Regions from separate parts of the Homo sapiens genome. Here all the other regions are reported to be linked to region 2. The links are microRNA targets in miRTarBase. Many come from high-throughput screens and were not tested one by one. Region 2 holds a microRNA gene; each other region holds the end of a gene's coding sequence.
The links. Region 2 holds the annotated microRNA hsa-miR-6838-5p (AAGCAGCAGUGGCAAGACUCCU, at 1,586-1,607, shown strand). A microRNA usually pairs through its seed, bases 2 to 8, with sites in the 3' UTR of a target mRNA and lowers its output. Matches are read on the target gene's strand: a 7mer-m8 pairs with bases 2 to 8, a 7mer-A1 pairs with bases 2 to 7 and ends in A, and an 8mer does both.

Region 1: the mRNA of LSM11 is a reported target of hsa-miR-6838-5p. Seed matches in the 3' UTR shown: 8mer at 579-586 and 7mer-m8 at 2,609-2,615.
Region 3: miRTarBase lists B3GNT2 as a target of hsa-miR-6838-5p. Seed matches in the 3' UTR shown: 7mer-m8 at 1,070-1,076.
Region 4: the mRNA of ARMC12 is a reported target of hsa-miR-6838-5p. Seed matches in the 3' UTR shown: 7mer-m8 at 617-623.

Annotation. Positions count from the first base shown.
Region 1 is chr5:157,754,732-157,757,842 of GRCh38, forward strand. It overlaps LSM11 (LSM11, U7 small nuclear RNA associated), which reads left to right. Exons shown (of 4, transcript NM_173491.4): 4 at 123-3,111. The coding sequence ends at 533. Among named protein-coding and RNA genes, the nearest start is that of LSM11, 13 kb to the left of the region's middle.
Region 2 is chr7:44,071,903-44,075,013 of GRCh38, reverse strand. MIR6838 (microRNA 6838) reads left to right here and starts at 1,581; the gene lies at 1,581-1,636. POLM (DNA polymerase mu) reads left to right here. Exons shown (of 11, transcript NM_013284.4): 7 at 484-616; 8 at 781-883; 9 at 989-1,231; 10 at 1,306-1,389; 11 at 1,637-2,952. The coding sequence ends at 1,723. RefSeq lists enhancers at 576-645, 716-915.
Region 3 is chr2:62,223,257-62,226,256 of GRCh38, forward strand. It overlaps B3GNT2 (UDP-GlcNAc:betaGal beta-1,3-N-acetylglucosaminyltransferase 2), which reads left to right. Exons shown (of 2, transcript NM_006577.6): 2 at 1-1,475. The coding sequence ends at 158. Among named protein-coding and RNA genes, the nearest start is that of MIR5192, 19 kb to the left of the region's middle.
Region 4 is chr6:35,748,453-35,751,563 of GRCh38, forward strand. It overlaps ARMC12 (armadillo repeat containing 12), which reads left to right. Exons shown (of 6, transcript NM_001286574.2): 6 at 86-627. The coding sequence ends at 418. Among named protein-coding and RNA genes, the nearest start is that of ARMC12, 13 kb to the left of the region's middle.

The sequences.
Region 1 (3,111 bases), not on the chromosome of region 2:
AAAAAATTGCAAAGCAAGGAGTCCACAGAACATAATTAAAGAATTTGGTCTTTTTCTGTATGTTGAAAGAGGGTGATGAAGGCTAAAGAGAAGGCTAATATTTATCATTGTTTGCTTTATAGCTATTTGATCGGCTGAAACTTCAAGATTCCTCCAAGAAGGAAGCAGATTCTAAGTCTGCAGTTGAAGATTCCACTCTGTCTAGATACTCACAGACATCCACTTGGAAGTTGGCTTCAGTGTGGGGAAGAGCAGACACTGGCCGGGGCTCACACAAGCGTTCCCGCTCTGTCCCTTCTTCCCTGCAGGCCTCTGCAAGGGAGGAGTCCAGGTCAGAGCTGTCAGGGAGGACTACACGGACAGACGGCTCCAGTGTGGGAGGTACCTTTTCCAGGGCTACCACCCTTTCCAGAGGCCAGTCCCGTAAGAAAAAGCGAAAGCCCAAAGTGGATTACCAGCAGGTATTCACTCGACACATAAATCAGATTTTCATTCGAGGCGAGAATGTCCTGCTGGTTCATCTTGCACAGTGACCAGCTCAGCCTGAGCTTTGGTTTTTAGAAATAAAGTGCATGAATTGCTGCTATGCTGTATCCTAGTATCCCAGTGAAACTCTGAGTTGGAATGATTCCCTCTGGTCCTGCATATGCAGAGGACGGAGCAGGCTCAGCCCCCTGGAAGATGAGCTCAAGGGGAGGACAGGCCTTGGGAGGGCAGGCGTTTGCATTAATATCAAGGCAAAAAGCATTCATAGATACATGCATCTGATTTGGTATTGTGATTTACTTCAGACCCTGAAACCAAATATCTGATCTTCCATTAGACTTAGGGGTCATGATATGAGTGGAATTTACATTTTAGATACTATAGGGGAAAGAAAAGTCTCAAAAAGAAGTATTGCATGTCTAAAAGCTAGTGCCCTGAGTACTCATGAATTCGATTCCAAGAGTAGTGGTGTAAATTGCCTTGGAGCCCTGCATCCACGTCTTGTAACTAACTTTTGAATTTTGCCTGACATGATTCTCTCTTGATGAAGAAATGACATATATTATCTTTGAATATCTACAAGGAAAGTTACCAACTTATGTAGGGGTGAAATTTGGATAGGCGGTATGCTCAAAGCAGCCAGCAATGAGTGCTCTGTTTTGATCCTTCTTCTTATTATGGAAAGGAGTACAGGACCTCTTCAGTCTTCCCCTTACCAGAGGTAGCCTCTGCAAATGGCATACCAGATGGGACTCTAAGATGCTTGTGTGGTGGCTTCTTGTCCTTCTCTTTGACTTCTGTGGCATGGTGCTAGTGCATGTACCCTGTGGTATTGCCCCTCTGTCCGTAGTGTGAACTGTCCTGTGAGCTTTATGTCAGGAGACTGTGACCTTCATGTCCAGCTTCAAAGAGTTGTGCATGAACTCGGTAATACACATCACACGGCTGAGAGTCCCCTTTCCAGGCAGGGCCAGCATGTGTAGAATATCTTTCAGAATATGGTTTCACCATGAAACAGGGGTGGTAGATTTATTCCCTTGTGTCAGGCCAAAGAAGTTCTTACAAAGTACAGTGGGTAGTGTCTAAAGCGACACTTTACTCACAGCCTGGCTTGAGTCAACAGGAACACCATAGCACCCACAAATACTTCTACTTGAATCATATTCTGTGCTTTTTCAATCACTAGTGCAGAATAGGCTGCATTTGACACAGACTGTTAGGCAATATTGATTTTTTTGTTTTGTTTTTATTTGGTTTTATCTGAGATAACTTATGTTCAAGGTGAGAATAAGAAATAGCCAACTAGTTAAAATGTATGAAAAGAAAACTTTCCCCTGCTGTATTTGTTGTGTAACATAAATAAGCCTTCTGAGAAGCAGGGTGAATAAAGTTTAGGGAGCTGGGACACCTGGTCCTGCTAGCTGGACCACTGGCTCATCATGCAATGAAAAGGTGAGCAGACTTAACCCCTCCGTGCCTCAGCTTTTTCCCCACAGACACCTACCTCACAGGGGCATTGAGAAAAAAAAAATGAAGGCATTTTACAGTCTCTAAACATCTTTAAGTGCCATGAGTAATTTTTCCTGACTCTGTTTCATAGCTTTGTAAGAATTCTGTGTCTTTATAAGACACAGAAGCAAGGCAGGTGCTACATAAAAAAGTAATCTCAGCCAGGCACGGTGGCTCACGCCTGTAATCCCAGCACTTTGGGAGGCTGAGGCGGGTGGATCACAAGGTCAGGAGATCAAGACCATCCTGGCTAACACGGTGAAACCCTGTCTCTACTAAAAATACAAAAATTAGCCGGGCGTGGTGGCGGGCGCCTGTAGTCCCAGCTACGTGGGTGGCTGAGGCAGGAGAATGGGGTGAACCCGGGAGGCGGAGCTTGCAGTGAGCCAAGATTGCACCACTGTACTCCAGCCTGGGCGACAGAGCAAGACTCTGTCTCAAAAAAAGGAAAAAAAAAAAAAGTAATCTTAGGGTTCATAGTTATGATCCTGTTGTAACTATCTTCGGAAGGCAGCAGTATCTTCTGGAACTTCCATATTCCATTCCTTCCTCCTAAGGGACAATGGAAGTTCTCAGAAGAGTATCTTCAGTAAGAGGAGAGTAACTTTTTTTTTGCTGCTCCCGCTATATCCCAGGCCTCACCCTTTTCTGATCATTATCAGAAAGAATCCCCTGAACTTTTCAAGGGGTTTATATGGTAGCACCAAATGGAGAATGAGCATCTAAAAATGACACATCCCGAAAGGGCAATCTGTGGAAGTTTGTTGTTTGTTTGTTTTTATTTTTAAATGCATTGTAAAGTGTACTCTAGAGCCAGATCAGGTGCACTAAAGTTTATAGAGGTTCCAGTTTACAAACTCAAGTGAACAGTAATCTTTGGAAGCTGCCAGTCTAAATTCTAAATAGTGTATCTGAAATCTCAGTTCCCAAAATAGTTGTCAGGTTTAATCATCAGGCAACACTGCGTATACCTGTGTGGCTATCCTCATCTGCCTGCCCTCTCATCCCTCGGCTAGAATGATGTACTCTACTTTCCCAATAAGGTAGAAATTTGGAATCCAACGGAATATAATCAGTTTTCATTCATTCCAGTGCCTAGTTAAATCTAACCTGACT
Region 2 (3,111 bases):
AACAGAAGTAGGCCAGAGTGAGGTGTTCGTCATGGCAAAGCCATCTTCCATCCTTTTACCACCTCTTGGTCCCACTTTATGCATAAGGAAAAACAGCCATCAAAAGAGATAGCCTGTGGCATGACTGTATCAACATCAGTATCCTTATATTTGGTTGCAAAATTATAGTTTTGTAAGGGGTTAACCTTTTGGGGGAGCTGGGTAAAAGGCACATGGGATCTCCCTCTGTGCTATTTCTTTTAACTGCGAGTGAATCTACAACTGTCTCAAAATAAAAGTTTAAAATTTAAAGGGGGAGAGAAGATAGTGTCAGGCTTAGATTGGGATCTCACTCTGCTCCCTGCCCTAGCCTCACCTTCCTCGGAGGCCTCTCCTGGTCCTGCAATGACGGGGCCCCAGGTTGATCACCTCATGCTGGTGAGGGATGGGGGCTCGGTGTGGTGGGCAGGCTGGGTGAGTCAGGAGGGCCGGTGTTGCCCCCAGGGCTCCAGCACCACCAGGACCTGAGCACCCCAGTCCTGCGGTCCGATGTAGATGCCCTGCAGCAGGTGGTGGAGGAAGCTGTGGGGCAGGCCCTGCCTGGGGCCACCGTCACGCTGACCGGCGGCTTCCGCAGGTAAGAAGGCCCGACGTGCCCCTCTGGCTTGGCTTCAGACCCCTCCCCAGTGAAGGGACCTGAGTCGGGGACCCTGAAGCGGGCCCACTCGTTGGAAGGGATGTGGCCTGGGGCTGGAGTGAGCAGGCCGTGTCCCTGAGTCAGAGTCAGACTGACGCCCTCAGGGGGAAGTTGCAGGGCCATGACGTGGACTTCCTCATCACCCACCCCAAGGAGGGTCAGGAGGCGGGGCTGCTGCCTAGAGTGATGTGCCGCCTGCAGGACCAGGTGAGGGCCTCCCTGCTCCCCAAGAGCCACCGCTGGCCAATGCCACTGCCTCCTGCTCTCTCCACACCACCGGATGGTCTCAGCCACGCCCGCCTCTCCCCACAGGGCCTCATCCTGTACCACCAGCACCAGCACAGCTGCTGTGAGTCCCCTACCCGCCTGGCCCAACAGAGCCACATGGACGCTTTTGAGAGAAGTTTCTGCATTTTCCGCCTACCACAACCTCCAGGGGCTGCTGTGGGGGGATCCACGAGGCCCTGCCCATCCTGGAAGGCCGTGAGAGTGGACTTGGTAGTTGCACCCGTCAGCCAGTTCCCTTTCGCCCTGCTCGGTTGGACTGGCTCCAAGGTAGGCAGTGTGCCGCTGGGCCGCCTGGGGGTGGGGCTGGGCCAGCCCTGCTGAGGACAATCCCTTCCCTACAGCTTTTCCAGCGGGAGCTGCGCCGCTTCAGCCGGAAGGAGAAGGGCCTGTGGCTGAACAGCCATGGGCTGTTTGACCCGGAGCAGGTACATTGTTGGGGACTGGGGACAGCAAACAGCACCCATAGTCCGCTCCCTGACCCACAATCTGAAATGGCCCCAGACCCCTCCAGCCTGAAACCCATAGGACCCGAATCTGGGTCTCCACACACAGTTCCTGGCCCTCAAGAGCACACCCCACCTCGGCGCTGGGCTCTTCCCCACCCTCAGTCTTCCTGCAGGGAAGCAGCAGTGGCAAGACTCCTAGGTCACGGAAGTCCTGCTTCTGTTGCAGAAGACATTTTTCCAAGCGGCTTCAGAGGAAGACATCTTCAGACACCTGGGCCTTGAGTACCTTCCTCCAGAGCAGAGAAACGCCTGAGCCTGCCTGTGTCCCCCACTTCCACTCAGGAAATTGGGCTGCCCCCAACCTGGCCACTGAATGTCTCCAGGCAGATATGCTGCCCCCTGACCCCCACCTTCACCCCTCCCCGCCAAGGCCTGGCTCTTCCGGAGGTCAATTGTGCCTGCAGGATCAGTTGAGCCCCTGCTGGTGTGCTGCAGGGTGTGATGAGGTGGGAGCCCTCAGTGCCAGCCTCATCACTGTGTGACCCTGGGTCTGCTCTTAGCCTCCCCATGGCTCACGTTCCTGCCCTGGATGGGATGTGAGTGGGGCCCACATCGTGGAGCTGTGGTGGGGCCTGCAGTCATGAATGGCAAGTGGTCCCTGATGTGCAGTGTCTCATTAGTTGCACTGCAGTTAACTGTGGCTCCTGCAGGGCACCCTGCCCAGAATGCCCAGAAGAGAACCATGCATACCTGCACTGCATTTGAGAGCCATGAGCTGGAGGCTGTGGTTCGTGCCAGCAAGGAGCCTACTGTCTGGTGTGCTGTAGGCATCTGGAGAGGGAGAGGGCCTGGGTAGGAGCTGGGAGGAAGATAATTTTCAACTATGGGGCTTCAGTACTGCAGCGCCCCGAGCCAGGCTCTGTGCTTCTGCCTTTAAGGCCTGTTCTCAGCACAATGTCTCAAAAATAGGTCATATCCTGCCACTCCCGTCGCAGAGCCCTTTAATGGTTCCAAACCCTAAGTCCACACATAGCCCCTGGCTCTGGCATCTCTCCAGCCCCACTGGCCCCGAGCTGCTTGACTCACCGGCTTCCTATTTGATGCACCCAGGCCCCCTTGTGGCCAACTCCCTCCCCTTCTCACTGAGGCAGAAGCACTGAGGTGGGCTGGACATGGGTGCCCTCCACGTCCCTCATATCCCCAGGCACACTCTGGCCTCAGGTTTTGCCCTGGCCATGTCATCTACCTGGAGTGGGCCCTCCCCTTCTTCAGGCCTTGAATCAAAAGCCACTTTGTTAGGCGAGGATTTCCCAGACCACTCATCACATTAAAAAATATTTTGAAAACATGCAGTAAAGTTGACTCTTGGGGTGCAGTTTTTGCACACGTAGGGCACACCAGGTCCATCCCCAGAACACTTCCCATGCTGTCCTATTGTGGTCATGTGCTTCTCCACCCCCACCCACTTAGCGGTGCTACATCCCTATAGTTTTGCTTTCTCTAGAATGTCATGTAAATAGAACCAAACTATATTTAACCTTTGGACTGGCCTCTCCCCACAGCCTAATGCCTTTGACGTTCCTGCAGGTTGCTGGGTATGTTGAGTTTGTAATTTGTTCCATGCCATGGGTGTTCTACAGTTTATCCATTCAGGTGTTGAATGTCTGGGTTGTGGCCGGATGCCGTGGCTCATGCCTGTAA
Region 3 (3,000 bases), not on the chromosome of region 2:
TTCCAGAGAAACACAAAGGCTTCAGGACATTTGATATCGAGGAGAAAAACAAAAATAACATCTGCTCCTATGTAGATCTGATGTTAGTACATAGTAGAAAACCTCAAGAGATGATTGATATTTGGTCTCAGTTGCAGAGTGCTCATTTAAAATGCTAAAATAGATACAAACTCAATTTTGCATAGAAAGGTGTATTTTGAATAGTTCCCATGTTGTGTTCTCACATTAGAGTAATTTCTATATTAAACCATGAAAATTGCCTTTATGAGTGATACCCATTTGAGGGCCTCTAAACCCTTCAATTTGGTACTCACGTGAAGAGGGAAAGCGGAAGATGGTAATTTTTTTTTATGGATGATATGGCAGGATGATTGGTTCTGATCTTACCGGCTAGTGGTCATTTTTAAAAAACTTGTACCCTCTTATCTGAAATCCTGTTTCTGGAATTTGGCCATTTTAAGTGATTTTGTTTGCCCTCTTCTATAATATTCCTACTTCCCATAATAATGACTGATTTATTTGTAATTCAGGTATTTATAAACCTATTGGCTACAAAGACTTTGTTAAACATTATCCAGTGGTTTTCGTGAAATGGAATTATGTTTATTTTTATGGGATTTGGGTAAATTTTAAATTGTCTAGAAAACTGAAATTTCAGTTGTCAGTTGTGGAATTCAGTTTTTCAATTGTGGAAATTTCCTGCCACCCCAACAGTATTTTTGTGTGTTAATTAATTTTGCAAAATGAGAATCATGGTGTGACACTCATCTAATTTATCTTGTTGTGATGTTATGGTCATAATAAGGAGAAAGAGGGTTTAATTTTTCTTGTATTTGGTTTCCTGGTGGTATCATAGTGTAATTTTAGTATTTGAAAATCAGTGTGATTCCTTAATGGCCAACTGAAGATTGAATTGCCGCTAACAACCATATCGTGTTAGTGAATTTTCAATATGGACCAGGAAGGCATATGTATTTTGAACTTGAGTGAAAAGGTTGAAGTTACAGACTTTTGCATAGATGGTTTGTCAATTTAAAATTCCAGAATTTATTATTGCCATATTTTCACATGCTGCTTATACAAGATTATTATTGAGTAGTAACTGCTTCCCTGTCTATGTAGAAGTGCCTGTGTTTTTATTTATTGTTCAGATCAAAGACCAAAACATTTTCTTAAATATATTTTATGTAATATTTTATTTGTATACAGTGTTGTTGATGAAATATTTAACTAGAGCATGATATTTTAAATGTTAAGGTGTAACATATGTTAAATAAAACTGTTATTTTTGAATTTTAAAATTTGTTTTTTGGGGGTATGAACTACTAGAGTTTAAAATTCTGCCAAACTATTACTTATATGTACTATTGTGTAACATACTTTCTTGAAATATTTTTGTTTATAGAATTGAAGGTTCTTATCAGATGGGATACTGGGGACTATAAACAATGGAAATAAAGCCACTGTATTTTTAATTTTTTGTGTAATGTGTAATCTATAATCCTTTTGTTTCCCATATTTGAGAACATTTTTCCCTGAAAGAGGCCAGTTTCCTCCCCAGAAACCATTACAGTAGTGTTGAACTATCACTGTCTCTCAGTGCGTCATCCATCTTTGCATTTAAAATCCCCAAAGTGCTTTCCCATTTAAAGTCTTTAAAGAAAAGTGAGAATATTTATTTATGCTTCCATTTTCAGTGAGTATAAATAATTTAATTAGGGAGTGGTGTGGCATTGTAAAGATTGTGTTATCCTAAGCCATTTCTATTTTGGAGTTTGTAGCCACAAAGATGAAATATAGAATCAGCCTTGACTACTCAATTTCCTTTCATAGACCCATGTTGAGAAGACACTACTAACGTCCAGTGGGAAACAAGTAGACAATTGATGAAGCTCAAAAAACAGAAGGGTTAGTGTTGTAAGAGCAAACAGTCTAATCCTGTTTGGAATGTGGAAGCCATTTCTGAGCAAGTATGAGGACACAGGTGCTTGATTTGAGATTGAAGACTGTTTTCAGCCTGGTCTTCCTGAAGGTTTCCTGGGGCCTGCATCTGCCTTCTACTCCCATGGCTGCTAGCACACACCTCCCAGAGGGCCATATTGCCACATTATGGCTAGAGAAGAGTAAAGAAGAAAAGAAGCTCTGAGAACATTCACAGGTAATTGGATCACATTTGCATTTGTCCAAAAAACCTGACCACGCATTCTCAGGTAATAGGTTTCTCCTCTCAGAGGAATTTCAATTTTTTTTCTTGTTAGAGATTCCCCTTCTCTGAGGTTTCAAGTCTCTTGTAGAGAAAGAAGAGATGGAGCAGGTTTTGAATGAGGTGTGGAGGGCCACTGGGGGGCCTTTTGTGAGCCTTCAGTCCACATGTGTGCTGTTGTTTGAACATGAGTTCTTGGTGCTGATGACATTTGGATGAGATGATCTCTGGCCCTTCTTCATTTGGCAGAAGTTCTTGTGCAATGGCTGCCCAAGCCCACCACACTGGTCATTGCTGCCCTGTGAGATGGACCTCATGGGCTTTTTAGCAGAGCACGTTAGGTTTTAGAGCTTTACGCATGCTTGGGCTCTGTTATGGCGCAAACCCTTAAATCCAGGAAGGCCTCTCTTGGTGCCCACAATATGGGTTCTCACCTGATCCCCCATCTCACGGATGGAACTGCTGTAAGTCTAACTTATTCTTTGAGAACTGTTTAACAATTAGGCCTCAAGGGAAACTGGTATTTTGGGCCCTTTTCTTGGCTATTCCCAAGTCATGTTGATTTTGAGTTTGAAGGTCAAAAAGGCTGAAAGCATTGCCAGGGTTTGGACTATTCAAAAACCCAAGCAGGTCTTAAAAAAAGGATGCAAGAGACAAGAATGGCTCATTCCCCTTCCTGATCCTGGTTATACCCATGTCCTTTCTTGAGATGGTCAAGAGAGGCTGGAAAGAAGAACAGGAAATTGGGGGAGTGCTTTGTTACACTTGGAAATTGAGTCAAGAATTAAAGACACCCA
Region 4 (3,111 bases), not on the chromosome of region 2:
GTTTAGGCAATAGGAATATACAAGAACAAGAATTTTGTAACTTGCCTAGGAGTTTATTCCCATTCTTTCTCTATTCCCATCACAGGTTCACTCCAACTTCCTAAACCTGTTCCAGCCCACACAGTCAGGGAGTCTCCTGTATGAGGTACTGGTGTTTGCTGAGCGGCTGAGTGAGGGCCGGAACGCACCCCACTACCACGTGGTGAAATGGCATTACAACGAACAGTCCCTGCATGAATCCCTCTTTGGGGAAGAGTCCCGACTGGCAGACCGACTACTTGCCCTGGTCATCCACCCTGAGGAAGATGTTCAGATCCAGGCCTGCAAGGTCATTGTCAGCCTGCAGTATCCCCAGGACTTGAGAGCCCGGCCCTCCTCCTGCCAGCCCAGTCGTTCCTACTTTAAAAACACGGAATAAAATTAAGGAGAGCCAATAAATGAGTATAGGAGAGAAACTTGAAGTTTCTTGAAGCTCGAATGTCTGTTGGTGGCCTTCCAGGGCTGGGTGGAGATTTCATTCAGCATAACCTCTGCTCCAGAGTGTGGTACAGCATGGGCTTATCTCTCAAAACACATCCCCACTTCTATGTTTGGGGGACTAGCTCCCCTCTTCTCTTGCTGCTTTTCTTTCTTTTTTTTTTTTTGAGATGGAGTCTTGCTCTGTTGCCTAGGCTGGAGTGCAATGGCACAATCTTGGCTCACTGCAACCTGCGCCTCCCTGGTTCACGCCATTCTCTTGCCTCAGCCTCCCGAGTAGCTGGGACTACAGGCGCCCGCCACCACGCCCAGCTAATTTTTGTATTTTTAGTAGAGGTGGGGTTCGGCATGTTGGCCAGGCTGGCTCTTGCTGCTTTTCAAATCAATGTGGAGCCATTGCTTTCAGGGGGTTGGAAGAAGGCAGGCTTGGGGATTGAAGCCAAAGATAATCAACAGGACGCAGTATAGCATTAGATTAGTTAGGATGGGCCAGGCTATCCCACAGTAACAACACTCACACCTCAGTGGCTTAAACATGGCAAAGGGGGCCAGGCGCGGTGGCTCACGCCTGTAATCCTAGCACTTTGGGAGGCCGAGGCGGGCAGATCACGAGGTCAGGAGATCGAGACCATCCTGGCTAAAACGGTGAAATCCCGTCTCTACTAAAAATACAAAAAATTAGCCGGGCGTGGTAGCAGGCGCCTGTAGTCCCAGCTACTCAGGAGGCTGAGGCAGGAGAATGGCGTGAACCCAGGAGGCGGAGCTTGCAGTGAACCGAGATTGCGCCACTGCACTCCAGCCTGGGCGACAAAGCGAGACTCCGTCTCAAGAAAAAAAAAACATGGCAAATGTTAATTCTTGTTTACACTGCATGCCCATTGCAGATCAGCGGTGGGGGTGGAAGGGCAGGCCTCTACTCCACAACATCCTCACACAGAGACCCAGGTTGAGGGAGGCTTCCTCATTGTGTTTCTACAACTATTACAGAAGGACAGGGAATGTGGTAGTGATAAATGTCATCACTTCTGCTCACATCTCATTAGCCAAAGGGGATGAGGAAGATCATTCTTTCCACGTGTCCAAGGAAGAACTGTTGATCCTTGGTGACAGCATGAATGACAGAGATCTGCAGGCATACTGGGTCAGAAAGGGAGCTCTGGAATCAGAGTGCTCGCTTCCAGTCCCAGCTCTGTCACTTACTGTGTGACCTCAGGGGAGCAGTTAACCCTATTTGAGCTTCAGGCCCCTCATCTATAAAATGCATATAATAATAGTACTGATTTCATGACGCTGTTGGGAAAATGAAAGGGGGATTATATGAGTTAACGAACGTAAGCCACAGTGTTCTGCATGCATTCCTCAAAGATGGGCTCTGAGGAGCTATGAAATCATCACTGAGAAAGCCGGGCAGAGTGGCTCACGCCTGTAATCCCAGCACTTTGGGAGGCTGAGGCGGGAGGATCACCCGAGGTCGGGAGTTCGAGACCAGCCTGACCAACACGGAGAAACCCCGTCTCTACTAAAAATACAAAACTAGCCAGATGTGGTGGCGGGCACCTGTAATCCCAGCTACTTGGGAAGCTGAGGCAGGAGAATTGCTTGAACCCGGGAGGCAGAGGTTGCGGTGAGCTGAGATCACGCTATTGCACTCCAGCCTCAGAGACAGAGGTGCGAGACTCCATCTCAAAAAAAAAAAGAAATCATCACTGAGAAAACAAAAGATCATCACTGGGGAGGTCCTTGGAGAGTGTTGCCTCCAGCATTTCTCCAGTCTCTTCAGGTTATGGGCACTGGGGAGTCCTAGAGTCCTCTATGAAGCGTGCTGAAAAGTCATTGAAACTTAGCTTTGGAAACCAGAACAATGGTGTGAGTAATATAACACCATAACCATGAAGTTTCCAGAAACAAGAAGACTGTCAAACCAAATATGGTCATCCATTTTCCAATTCCCCATTCATTTGCGTTTCCCAGTTGTTCCTTCATTGTTTTTTTTGTTTTTTTGAGACGGAGTCTCGCTCTGTCGCCAGGCTGGAGTACAGTGGTACAATCTCAGCTCACTGCATCCTCTGCCTCCCGGGTTCAAGCAATTCTCCTGCCTCAGCCTCCCGAGTAGCTGGGACTACAGGAGCGCGCCACAACACCCAGCTAATTTTTTGTATTTTTTAGTAGAGAAGGGGTTTCACCATGTTGGCCAGGATGGTCTCGATCTCCTGACCTCGTGATCCCCCCACCTTGGCCTCCCAAAGTGCTAGGGTTACAGGTGTGAGCCACCACGCCCAGCCCTCATTCACTGTTTTATCTGTGAATCCTTGCTGGGAAACAGTAAGGATTGCTAACGGTTTAAGAAAATGCTACGGGAGAGAAACCTAATGTTGGAGCTATTCCCAGCCTGAGACTGCTCGATCTAGGACAAAGAACCTGGTCCAGCCACGGGCTCCCGGTGTTCTTCAGAAGCAGGATTTGAAAACTAGTCTCGTCCAGGACCAACCCTGGCATTTTCCTGAAAGGAAAACAAACCCAAAATGGAAAAGTGACTTGCTCAAGGTCACATGACTGGTCTAGGGCAGAAATAGGATTAGAACCTCCTACTACTGAGCTTTTCTTTTGCCCTCACATTCTTCGGTCCAAGCCCCG